3 linked regions of the Homo sapiens genome follow. The protein of the gene in region 1 interacts with the protein of each later gene in a pairwise test. Each region holds a gene or a part of one and is shown on either strand. Other genes may lie near its edges.

What was found.
Region 2: the proteins of C1GALT1 (region 1) and SLC18A1 interact in a two-hybrid assay, tested with the Homo sapiens proteins (one large-scale study listed by BioGRID).
Region 3: the proteins of C1GALT1 (region 1) and GPR101 interact in a two-hybrid assay, tested with the Homo sapiens proteins (one large-scale study listed by BioGRID).

What each region holds. Positions count from the first base shown.
Region 1 is NC_000007.14:7,231,017-7,234,666, reverse strand, and holds part of C1GALT1 (glycoprotein-N-acetylgalactosamine 3-beta-galactosyltransferase 1), read right to left. Parts: intron 365-3,650; 5' UTR 348-364; coding exon 128-347; intron 106-127; exon of another isoform or gene 1-105. UniProt on the Homo sapiens protein: Glycosyltransferase that generates the core 1 O-glycan Gal-beta1-3GalNAc-alpha1-Ser/Thr (T antigen), which is a precursor for many extended O-glycans in glycoproteins.
Region 2 is NC_000008.11:20,145,097-20,148,746, forward strand, and holds part of SLC18A1 (chromaffin granule amine transporter), read right to left. Parts: intron 2,975-3,650; coding exon 2,911-2,974; intron 2,627-2,910; coding exon 2,507-2,626; intron 2,296-2,506; coding exon 2,162-2,295; intron 781-2,161; coding exon 667-780; 3' UTR 1-666.
Region 3 is NC_000023.11:137,031,790-137,035,539, reverse strand, and holds the start of GPR101 (probable G-protein coupled receptor 101), read left to right. Parts: upstream 1-1,544; 5' UTR 1,545-1,738; intron 1,739-3,750. UniProt on the Homo sapiens protein: Orphan receptor.

The sequences.
Region 1 (3,650 bases):
CAAACCAAGAATTATTTTTAATATCTGGAATATATAGCCCATTTTAATTAACAGATACAGACAGGAATATGACAAAATTTAGACTAAAATACTGCTTATGTTTACTGCTTAATAAAGTAAACCATACCTTTATGTTGGCTAGAATCTGCATTGAAGTTCATTTGTCCTTCTAGATGATTCTGTCCATTATCATCTGAATGCCTTGCATGAGGATCATTATGAAGAACATTAGGCTGGGTGTCAACCTTTTCTCCCAACAAAATACTAAATAGCTGAGAACATAAAAGAAATCCTATTGCTGATCCACAGAGGAAGGTTAAAAAATTCAGCCAGGATTTAGAGGCCATTTCCCGAAAGTGTATTTCTGTAAGAACAAAAATTAGCAGGATGTTATAAAATCAAAGCTGTATACATAACCGGAGTAAAAATTCTGGTAACATTTAGCTATAACGGAAAGTTAATTTCTAACAGTATTTAGCTATTATCTATGAGTTTACCCCTCTATTTGCTGCTAAAACAGCACATTATGGAAAATCCATAAAACCAGATTAATTAGTAGGACAGTCACAGTTGGGGTGGGGTATGGATGAGTATGTCAGTATTGCACACAGAATTTCCTATTCTTCCCACCAGGATCCTTTGTGGATCCAGGGCTTCCTGTCGTGTTGTTTTTCTTTCTTTGCTGTTAACTCTGAGTACGGAAGTCTACTTCTTTTTCTCTGGTAGCAACCACCACCCCTTCTCCAACCCAAAAGTTAGCAAACCCTTTCTGTAAAGAACTAGAAATAAAATATTTTTGGCTTTTTGGGTCTCATGTGGTTTCTGTTGCATCTTCTTCTTAAACAATCCTTTATAAACGTAAAAAAACACTTGTAGCTTGTGGAGGACTAGGGTCAGCACAGTTTGAGGACCCATGGACCAAACCTGGCCTGCTACCTGTTTTTGTAAATAGAGTTTTATTTGAACACACCCATGCCCATTCATTTATATACTGACTGCGGCTACTTTTGCCCTAAAACAGCAGAGTGAATAGCTACAATAGAGGCAATATGTCTCACAAAACCGTACCTAGCCCTTTATAGAAAAAGTTTGCTGGCTAGGCACAGTGGCTCATGCCTGTAATCCCAGCACTCTGGGAGGCCAAGGCGGGTGGATCACTTGAAGTCAGGAGCTTGAGACCAGCCTGGACAACATGGTAAAAAATTAGCTGGGCATGGTGGCATATGCCTGCAGTCACAGCTACTTGGGAAGAATAAGGTGAATACTTGGGAAGAATTGGTAAGAATAAGGTGGGAGAATCACTTGAACTCAGAAGGCGGAGGTTGCAGTGTGCCAAGACTGCACCACTCAACTCCAGCCTGGGCAAAAGAGTGAAACTATCTCAGAAAAAAAAAAGAAAAAGTTTGCTGACCTCTGCTCTATACTGCAAGATCTAGATTTTGGATGGAATCTATAATATTAACGAGATTAAGTAGGGTACCTGGGACACAGATGCCTGTTGAACTGCCCCACAACCAAACATTGACATAAACGCCCTTTTTAAGCTTTTGTTAACAATTACTATATGGTGAAGTTATAAACTTCTATTAAATTCCTTAAAAGATTGGTCTTAACTCTAGTTTCCTATTCCTCAAGATAATTAAAAAAATAAGTTTACTAAGCATTTATTATATACCAGAAGCTGTCCATACATTATTTCATTTTAAATAAAATTTAATTTCAATGTCCTTTTTCATTCTCACTAAACCCGTCTGCAGATGAGGAAAGAGAAATTTTAAAAAGGTAATTTTAAACAGGTAATTAATTCATATAGGCTGACACAATCAGAAGGAGCCACAGTTTGAATGTAGGTCTGTGTGCTTAAAAAGCCCATGCCCGGCTGGGCGTGGTGGCTCACGCCTGTAATCCTAGCACTTTGGGAGGCCAAGGCGGGTGGATCACCTGAGGTCAGGAGTTCAAGACCAGCCTGGCCAACATGGTGAAACCCCATCTCTACTAAAAATACAAAAATTAGCCAGGCGTTGTGGTACGTGCCTGTAATCCCAGCTACCTGGGAGACTGAGGCAAAAGAATCACTAGAACCTGGGAGGCAGGACTGCAGGACCGAGATCATGCCACTGTATTACAGCCTGGGTGACAGAGCAAGACTCTGTCTCAAAAAAAAAAAAACAAAAAAAAAAAACCCACGCCCTTTCCATTACATTTCTCAAACTCTTCACCTAATCACCACTAACAGCAGAGGGCAATGGGCAGTGAAAGTAGAGGTCTGGGAAATATAACCCTAAAAATCAAAATTGCTTTGAAATAGTTTGTGAAAGCAAAAGTACAAACCAACAATCACCACTACAATAATAAAAACAAAACAACTTCATGTATTTCTGGAATGGCTGACTAGGTTCTTTTAGTACAACCAAGTGCAATCAGAAAAACTGAACAAAATGTAAAAAAATATAAATATGTGTTTGAAGACACTGGTAAGATATCAAGGCAGTGAGAATTAGTAGGGCCAAAATCTGGAAGAAGGAAGGAAAGAGGCAGACCAGACATCTGGCACTGCTCTATCCTCAAGACAATGACTGATTCTGAAAGAGAAAACAGCAAGGGCAATAAAGCTAAGCAAAAATTAATGTCCAAAGTCTGCTTAGGAGAAGAGGTCCTGAAAAACACCTATGCTCTTATCAAGGACTCTGAAAGGCTACAATCTGAGAATAAGAACAAAACAAAAATAGACCAATCTTTACAACGGCTGAAGTCTACGTTAGAGTCATCTCAGCCACTGACTGGATGATCCGCCCTAGCCTAACTGTAAAAATATTCTCCTGGAGAAATATAAAATCATGAAGAACCTCAAATTATCATGACGACTTTTTTTTTTTTGGTATACAACATGGACAAAATTTTGATACACAATGTCCAAAACAACCAGGCATCAAGATGAAAATTACGGCTAAACACAAAAAAGTAGACAATAGAAACAGAGCCAAAAGACTCAAATAAGATTTTCATATTTTTAGCTTAGAAATAACTATTCTTAATAAAGTCAAGAAATTAAATGGCAAGATTAAGAAATTAGGCATAGAATAGTCACAGCTGAAGAAAAAAATTAATAACCTAAAAAGCTAGGTCAGAAGAAAATACGCAGAATGAAGTATGGAAAAACAAATGGATTGAAAAAGAATTGAGCAAAAAAACAGAATAAAGTGAAAGGGTCTAATGTAAGTGTTAACTGGAACCTTTGAGGGAAGAGACATAACTCAGGAGAAGTGGTATTTAAAGAAATAATGACTGAATATTTTCCGAAACTGACACAGTACCAACCCTCACATTAAAAATCTACAAAACCCAATGAAGATTACAAAGAAAAAGAAAATGTTACCTAAGTACATCAGTCAAACTACTGAAAACCAAGGACAGAAAAAAAAACTTCAAAGGTGTAATAAGATTGACAGCTGACTTTTTAGCAGCAACAACAGAATCAAGACTGCAGTGAACTATTTTTAAAGTGCTAAAAGAACAGAACTACCAACCTAGCATTCTGTATCCAGCAAAAATGTCCTTCAAGAATGAGCCTTAAAAACATGTTCAGAAAAACAAAACCTAAGTGAATTTATCACTAACAGTTCTATTTCTAATTCTTCAGGCAGAAGGAA
Region 2 (3,650 bases), on another chromosome or scaffold:
GAAGAGAAATGGGCTCCTGTTTCTGAAAGATAATGAAAATAGAAGACACTTTTCACTGAGGGTAAAGCCCTTTTAGCAGCTCTAGATTTAGCCACAGAAAAATCACTCACTTTATTAAAAAAAAAAATAAATGAAAAAAAACAAAACAAAACTCTTCAAGCTGGCATTTGGCAGCAAGACAATGCTGAGAACATTTTCTCAACTCGGCTGGGAAAACCCGGGAAAGAACACGTTGAGGAAAAGAGGGTAACACTCTTCCGATCTGTTGGGACTATGCCAGAGAAAATCAGGCAACAGATTAAAGAGGCTTGTCAGTCACCCCACTGGTTTCAGGGGCACATTACTCACTACCACCTCTATGCAATGAGTCACCCCTTGCAGAACCCGTCACAGCTCAAGTTTAATCAACCTCACAGCAGCGGGAAGGTGCATCACTCTGTCTTCCCATAAAAGATGGGCCACTGCGGCACCAAGGCATAGAGGAAGAGCTACAAGTTACACAGGTGAGAAGAGTATCAGGGACAGTGTCCATGGGAGGGGAGGAAAGAAGATTCCCAGGCAGAGGTATGTGAAGCCCACTGAGCCGTGGGCTCAGCCATGGTGATCTGGTCCCAGGGAAAGAGGTGGTCACTGAGGCATCATGAATTCAAGGAGCACCTTCTGCTGCTACTCCTCATGGTCAGGCTCCTCATCACTGTCCTCCCCCAGAGGAAATTCCTTCGTGGGCTTCTGGGTTGCATACATCCGGGTCTCCATGGGGCAGTCCTGACTCAGAATAGCCTGCAGAGAGAGGCAAGAAGAGAAGCCACTGCACATTATTATCATTTTTTTTTTTTTGAGACGGAGTCTCGCTCTGTTGCCCAGGCTGGAGTGCAGTGGCGCAATCTCGGCTCACTGCAAGCTCCGCCTCCCGGGTTCATGCCGTTCTCCTGCCTCAGCCTCCAGAGTAGCTGGAACTACAGGCGCCCATCACCACGCCAGGCTAATTTTTTGTATTTTTAGCAGAGACGGGGTTTCACCATGTTAGCCAGAATGGTCTCGATCTCCTGACCTCGTGATGCGCCCGCCTCAGCCTCCTAAAGTGCTGGGATTACAGGCGTGAGCCACCGCGCCCGGCCAACCACCGCACATCTTTTTTTTACCAATCTCCTCATTCCGTCCTCCCACTAGTTCTTCCAAGGCTGGCATTGCTAAGTACTCAAGAAACATGCATAGGACCCTCTGCATGTACATGCACCAGCCTCCCGGGGTACCTAGTATATCAACCCTTGTCAGGACAAGTATCTCATTTGCTTTTAACTGAATTTAACAGTGGTAGTGAAAGTTACAGCAGGAAGCCAAATGGAATCACCACCACTCCCTATCACACCTTCATGTCTTCTTTTGTTCCCTTGAGCAGCCTCTGTCGGTATCCCAAACCCATCAGGCCCTCAGGATGTTTGTGCTGCAGTAAGAGGAAAGTGCTTTATTAAAGAAAATCCTATGGTATGGATCTCTTCCCTGGGGTTTTTGTACTTTTAAAAACGTGACCTGCTGACCAACATGGATAAACCCCATCTCTACTAAAAATACAAAAAATTAGCCAGACATGGTGGTACATGCCTGTAATCCCAGCTACTTGGGATGCCAAGGCAGGAGAATCTCTTGAACCCGGGAGGCAGAGGTTGTGGTGAGCCGAGATCACACTATTACACTCCACCCTGGGCAACAAGAGTGAAACTCCATCAAAAAAAAAAAAAAAAAGTGACCTGGTAAGGATAATGTTGCACTAGAGTGAATGAGTGGATGAACGGATGTGCCAATGGAATTCTGCCCACTTATGAGGGAGTTAACTTGGTAACTCACATCTTGCTAGTAACTAGCAAGCTAAGAACAGTAACTACAGGATGTCTTTGATGGTCCTCTGCCCCCATTTCCCTTCTCTACTGAAGACCCTTCCTGATAGCCCCAGAAAGAGGGAAGTGGTTACTTAGAGAAGGGAAATTAAGGAAGTGCACAAAAGAAATATGAAGATGAAAGGGGATTGGGAAACATGGCAAAGCAGAGAGAGTATCAACAGAGCAATAGAGGGAGGAAATAACAGCCCAGGATGAAAGGGAATGAGAGAGATGATGGAAAGAAACAGAAGTGAATTTCTCTTTTAACAGTCGGTGCTCCTTACAAGCTTCTCTTCCTTTGCCGGGGGGCTCCGCAGGTAGTAGCAGAGTGGAGCATAGACGATGTTGATGACCCCAGTGATGACCATGAGCCAGGGAAAACCGATGGCCTTTACAATGGCACCACCGGTGGATGGACCTGGGAGGGATACATCAAAGTCATAAGTGTCTATGGAGCCTCCATATGGAGCATCCTCCACGTAGGACACTATGCTAGGGGCAGTGGGTGACCCAGAGGATGTCTCAGCGTCAAAGATCTCCAGAACCCTAGGAGGATAGCTTCCTGGCTGCACTTCCAGCTGGTAAAGAGTAGACAGGGGAAAGTGGGGCACCAGGTCCTGCCAACATACCTATAGCAAAGCCCATGCAAAAAGCCACATCAGCGATGGCGTAGACACTCCCATACACCGAGGTGTGGCGTAGATCCACCAGGTGCCCCATGATGGGCATCATAGAAGAATCCACCATGCCTGTGGCCAGAGCAAACAGGACACAGTCAGCCCCACCCACAGTTAGTACCACCCCGCCTCTCCTCCTCCATTTAGTCCATTTGCTTTGTCTGCTGTCTTCTGCCTCGGACTAACACCTGTTCCAGGTGGGAATTACGAGCTCATCTCTCCACAACCCTGCCAGCTGCCCTCCTGATCCTTCTGCCTCTGCACCTACCTCCTCTGATGAGAAAAGGGGGAGGAAAGGCATCAGACCCAAAGCCAACATGCAGGGGCTTATTGTTTTCTTTGAGGGCACTTCTTACCTATGGCAAGGCCAAGCCCTGCATTGGGGCCAATGAGACCAAAAATATTGTGAGCCAGAGGAACCTGCATGGGGAAGGAGGAAGAGTCATCAGGACTCCAGATGGGTCAGGTGGGAGCAAGGTTCAAAGAGTTTTCACATGAAATGCATTTATTCAGAGTGCACTATTGGCCACATACATCATCCTCCTGCACTCTCAGACTTTCTCATGGAAAAGAATCTATACCTCCATTTTAAGGATATGAAAACTTGACCAGCGCTGTTGTGTTTATTTATTGCTCTATCCAGAGTTACAGATCTAATGAGTGGCAAGATCAAGTTTGGACCTCAGACTTGGCTCCATTATGCTCTAACGAGGGTCTTCCTCTGTTCCATGGATACTTTCTCCCCTTCCTCTACCCCTCTTCACCTAAACATACACTCCTGGTCTCATTCTTCATGGAATAAAGTTGCCTCTGTTTTCCATTATGGACATCACTGAAAGGTTTCATTTAGACTTCTAACTTGGTAGCTGTTGGAAAAAGAAGATAGAGAAGAGGCCCCAACAACCAGTTAGCTGTAAGCTAGAGGGGGCAGGTGGTGTGGCTTGGGTCCCCTGTCAGGAAGCTTGTGAGACTCATTCCCATTGCCCTCCCAATCCCCCAACAAAAACCCCTTCTTCCCTCTTTTTCAGGTTCCTTACCTCCCTCTCTGGGTACCTGCCATTCAAACCTGCTACCCCAGGACACTCACCCCTTAAGG
Region 3 (3,750 bases), on another chromosome or scaffold:
CATCTCCCTGTCTCAGAGGCAGGTGACGAGAAGGGGAGGAGGTATCTCCATCCAGCCCATCAACCAACTCCAAACCCTGTGCTCATTCTAGACCCTCCCCAACACCTCCTTGCCCTTATTCCCTGTCAATTTGCCTCTCTGTAGGTCTCTGCTTGCCCCGCTCTGTTGGACCTGTCAAGACCCTCTTTGTCTCCTGCCACAGCCTCCCTTCAGCTTTCTCCATCCAACACCAGCCCTGATTTTAGAATATCGCCCTACCTAAAACCCACCAATGAACAAGAATGGCAAATTATTTACCCTTGTGAAGGCTGGGTAATAGGAACATGGAGGATTATTTTATTATTCTCATTACGTTTGTGTATGCTTGAAGTCTTTCATAATAAAACGACTCTCCGACGACCTCCAGGGATCTCAGGGTAAAGTCCGAAGTCTGCAGACTGGCATTCAAGACCCCTCAGGATTTGTCTCTACCCAGTTTAACCAGCTAACCTCCTGGCACTCACCATGCTGCAGCCTGTTTTCCCAGCCTTTGGAACTCAAGTCTCTCTTGCAGCCCTAGTTTTACCCCATGCATCTTCTTTTTACAGAACACATTTCCCCTTGTGCCCTGCCTAGAAAACACCTCCTAATCCCTTGGAAATCTAATGCAAATGATCCCTGGTCTGGGTCACCTTCCCTACCTTCTGGGGGCAGGGAAGAGGGGGCCTCCTCAGTCCTGATATACAACAAATACCCAGTATGTGTTTAGGAGAGACCAGAATGTCTTGGCTAATAGAACGTGTGCAATATTTACTTGAACTTAGGCAAGTAGGGTAATCTTTCTTGGCTTCTGCTTCTGTCTCTATAAAATGAAGATAATAGCGGTACTTATCTCACAAGGCTGGGGTAAAGATTCAGCGGTATTCTCTGTGTAAACAGTTTAACACAGTACCTGGCAGAGAGAGGGGGAGAAAGAGGGAGAGAGGGAGAGATGCTGACTGACTTACAGACAGACATACTTCAATCAAAGAATATAGTGGGTAATTATGTGGCTTGTCTTAAATGAAATGCTTCCAAATCCCACAGGGAAAGCACTGCCGCTTAGCTCTTCCTGGGAGCTAGAGAAATTCGTGGAAAATCGTTGACATTAAAGTCACGATTCCTTTCTCGGGCTCAGGGGCTATTCATACTTTGGAGGGTTTTCAGAAGTCGAGGGGAGTCCCGGGCCCTCCTATTTGGAAGAATCGGAAGGATAGTGCAGGGTCTGTGCCTGGGAGCTGGCCCGAAATCAGGGGGCTAGGAAGGCACGGGGTTTGCACGAAAATCAGCCCCGGTGACAATCCCCAGTCTGTGAGCTCTCGGTGGACTCGGGGCCCCAGGGGTGGGAACCCGGAGTGAGAAAATCTGAGTGGGGTCTGGTGCACGGCCCCCCACCTGCCAGCCCCGCTCCCTGGGCTGCGGCGGCCTCGTGCGTCACGGGCGCAGGCGGGGGCCGAGGGGAGGGCGGCACCGCAAGGTGAGGGCACCGCGCTGCCTTAAGACGCCGCGCGCCCCCGCTGCCTCTCAGAGCTTGCAGCGCGGCGCGCTGGCCGGACGTGCGGGCACAGACGCTGTGCCCCGCTCCTGCCGCGCCCGCAGCGCCCGCTGCCCCGTGCCAGCTCGCAGCCGCCCGAGCCCCGAGAGGCGGCCGGGACGAGCGCGAGGAGCCCCGAAGGACCTGCACGCGGCGCCCGCGACGCCACGTCTGCAGCAGCAACAGGTAAGCAGCCCGGCCCTACTCCGGGCTCCGTGGCCCCCAGCACCCGGCAGGGCCCCGAGCCTGGGAGCCCACGACGCCCCCTCTGAAGCGTCCCGACGGCTGCTGAGCTACCAGGCGCGGTGGCCCGCGGTGCGGCCCCTTCTCGCCTTTCCCTAGCCATCCTCCCGCCCTCGCGTTTTCTCTCTCACTTTTTCTCGTGCGTTCTTTTCCCCCTTCCTCTCCATTCTCTCGTTTTTTCCTCATCCTTTCCCTCTTCCTCTGCTTGTTCTCTTTTCTTATTATTTTTTGCTTTTTCTGTCTGCGTCTCTCCCAGTCTGTCTTGCTCTCTCATTCTCTCTCACTCTCACGCTCCCATTTCTTCTTTTTTCTTTCTTTCTCCCTCTCTGTTGCTCACATTCTCTCTGTCTCTCTGTATGTATCTCATTCTTTCGCTGTCTCTCATTTCCTTTTTGTCTCTCTGCCTCTCAGTCTCTCTCGCCCTGCCTTTCTGACTCTCTCCACCACCCTGCACCCCTGCCTCTTTTGCCTTTCTCCCCAGCTCCTTTCCCACTCCCCTCGGCTGTCACCGACACCAAGCAGATCCGGAGAAAGCAAAGAGGATGCCAAATTGGGAATGGGGATGGGGCTGTGGAGGGTGAGGGTAGGGGAGCTCAATAGGCATCCTCTCTGCATTTTCCAGTCTCCATTGCACTGCTGATAAACTAAGGGTTTTTTAACCAAAGCCCGCGGTGGCCGGGGCGGCAGGTGGTTTCCACGGCAAAATAAAGTCCACAGGGAGACAGAGATCCAAAGAGACAGAGATCCAGCCAGAGAAAAACCAAGGTGAGGGGCCATGGGAAAAAGATGTAGAGAAATAGAGATGCGCACACACTCAAAGATACAAAGCAAGTGTTTAGCCAGAGTCCTGGGGTGACAGGAAAGTGAAGGACAGAGAAACCAACGAGAGAGTGCACACACTAAAGAGATAGCTTGAGAGACAGGTGAGACAAGCAGTAGAGTGTTAGAGATCAATGGAGAGAGAGGCAGAGTAATGCAGAGAGAACTTAGGCAGGGAGAGACAGAAACCACACGGAGAGACACAGAGACAAGAGGGTCCGAGAAAGACAGAGCAAGCGCACACGTGCCAGTGAGAGACAGAAGGAGACACCCAGAGAACCCGAGGGAGACGCAGAAACAAGAGAGTTGGAGAGACACGGAGACGGGCAGAGACACAGCGAACGACATTGAACAGGTGCGCTAGGGACCCACAAAGATGAACTGCTGGGGAAATAGACTGAGAGAGAAATGGAGAGACAAGAGAGCACTAGGGAAAGACGGAGACACACATGAACTAGCGAGCGACACAGTGACAGGCAGAGACACAGAGAGACAGAATGGATCAGAAAGAGACTGAGGGAGAGACGGGCAAGACTGTGAGAAAGATAGGGAGCGAGAGCGCAAGCCCTGCAGAGAAAGTGCGCTAGCGAAAGAGACACACACAGAGAGACTGAGTGACAAACAGAGTGGAAGAGATAAATGAGAGTAACAGGAAAGAGACAGCGTGCACGTGCTATCGAGAGACGGAGAAACAGAGACAGACATAAGTGAGAGACAAGGATGAGAAAGAATCAGGAAACGGTGAGACACATACAGACACACAACCCGAGAGATAAAGAAAAAAAGTGCGCTAGCGAGAGACACTGGAGAAGAGACAGAAACTGACGGTCGTAAACAGACAGAAACAGAGAGCGCACGCGCATGCGCTAGCGCTAGCGACCAAAACTCCCCGGAGCCAGAGACAGTGTGAGAGACAAGCAGAGAAAGCGCACGCACGCACGCGCCAGCAGGAGAAACAGATGAGAGGAAATCAGAGCCCTGGAGAGAGACAGGCAGACAGATCTGGAGAGTCCGGAAAGGAGCCATAGAAGCTGCCCGCACTGGGGATGGAGCCGTGCGGAAACCCGGGGTAGGGGGTCCTGCAGCGTCCTTGCTGGGCGCGGAGGCTTCTCCCCTTGACGGGTGACTAACTCTGC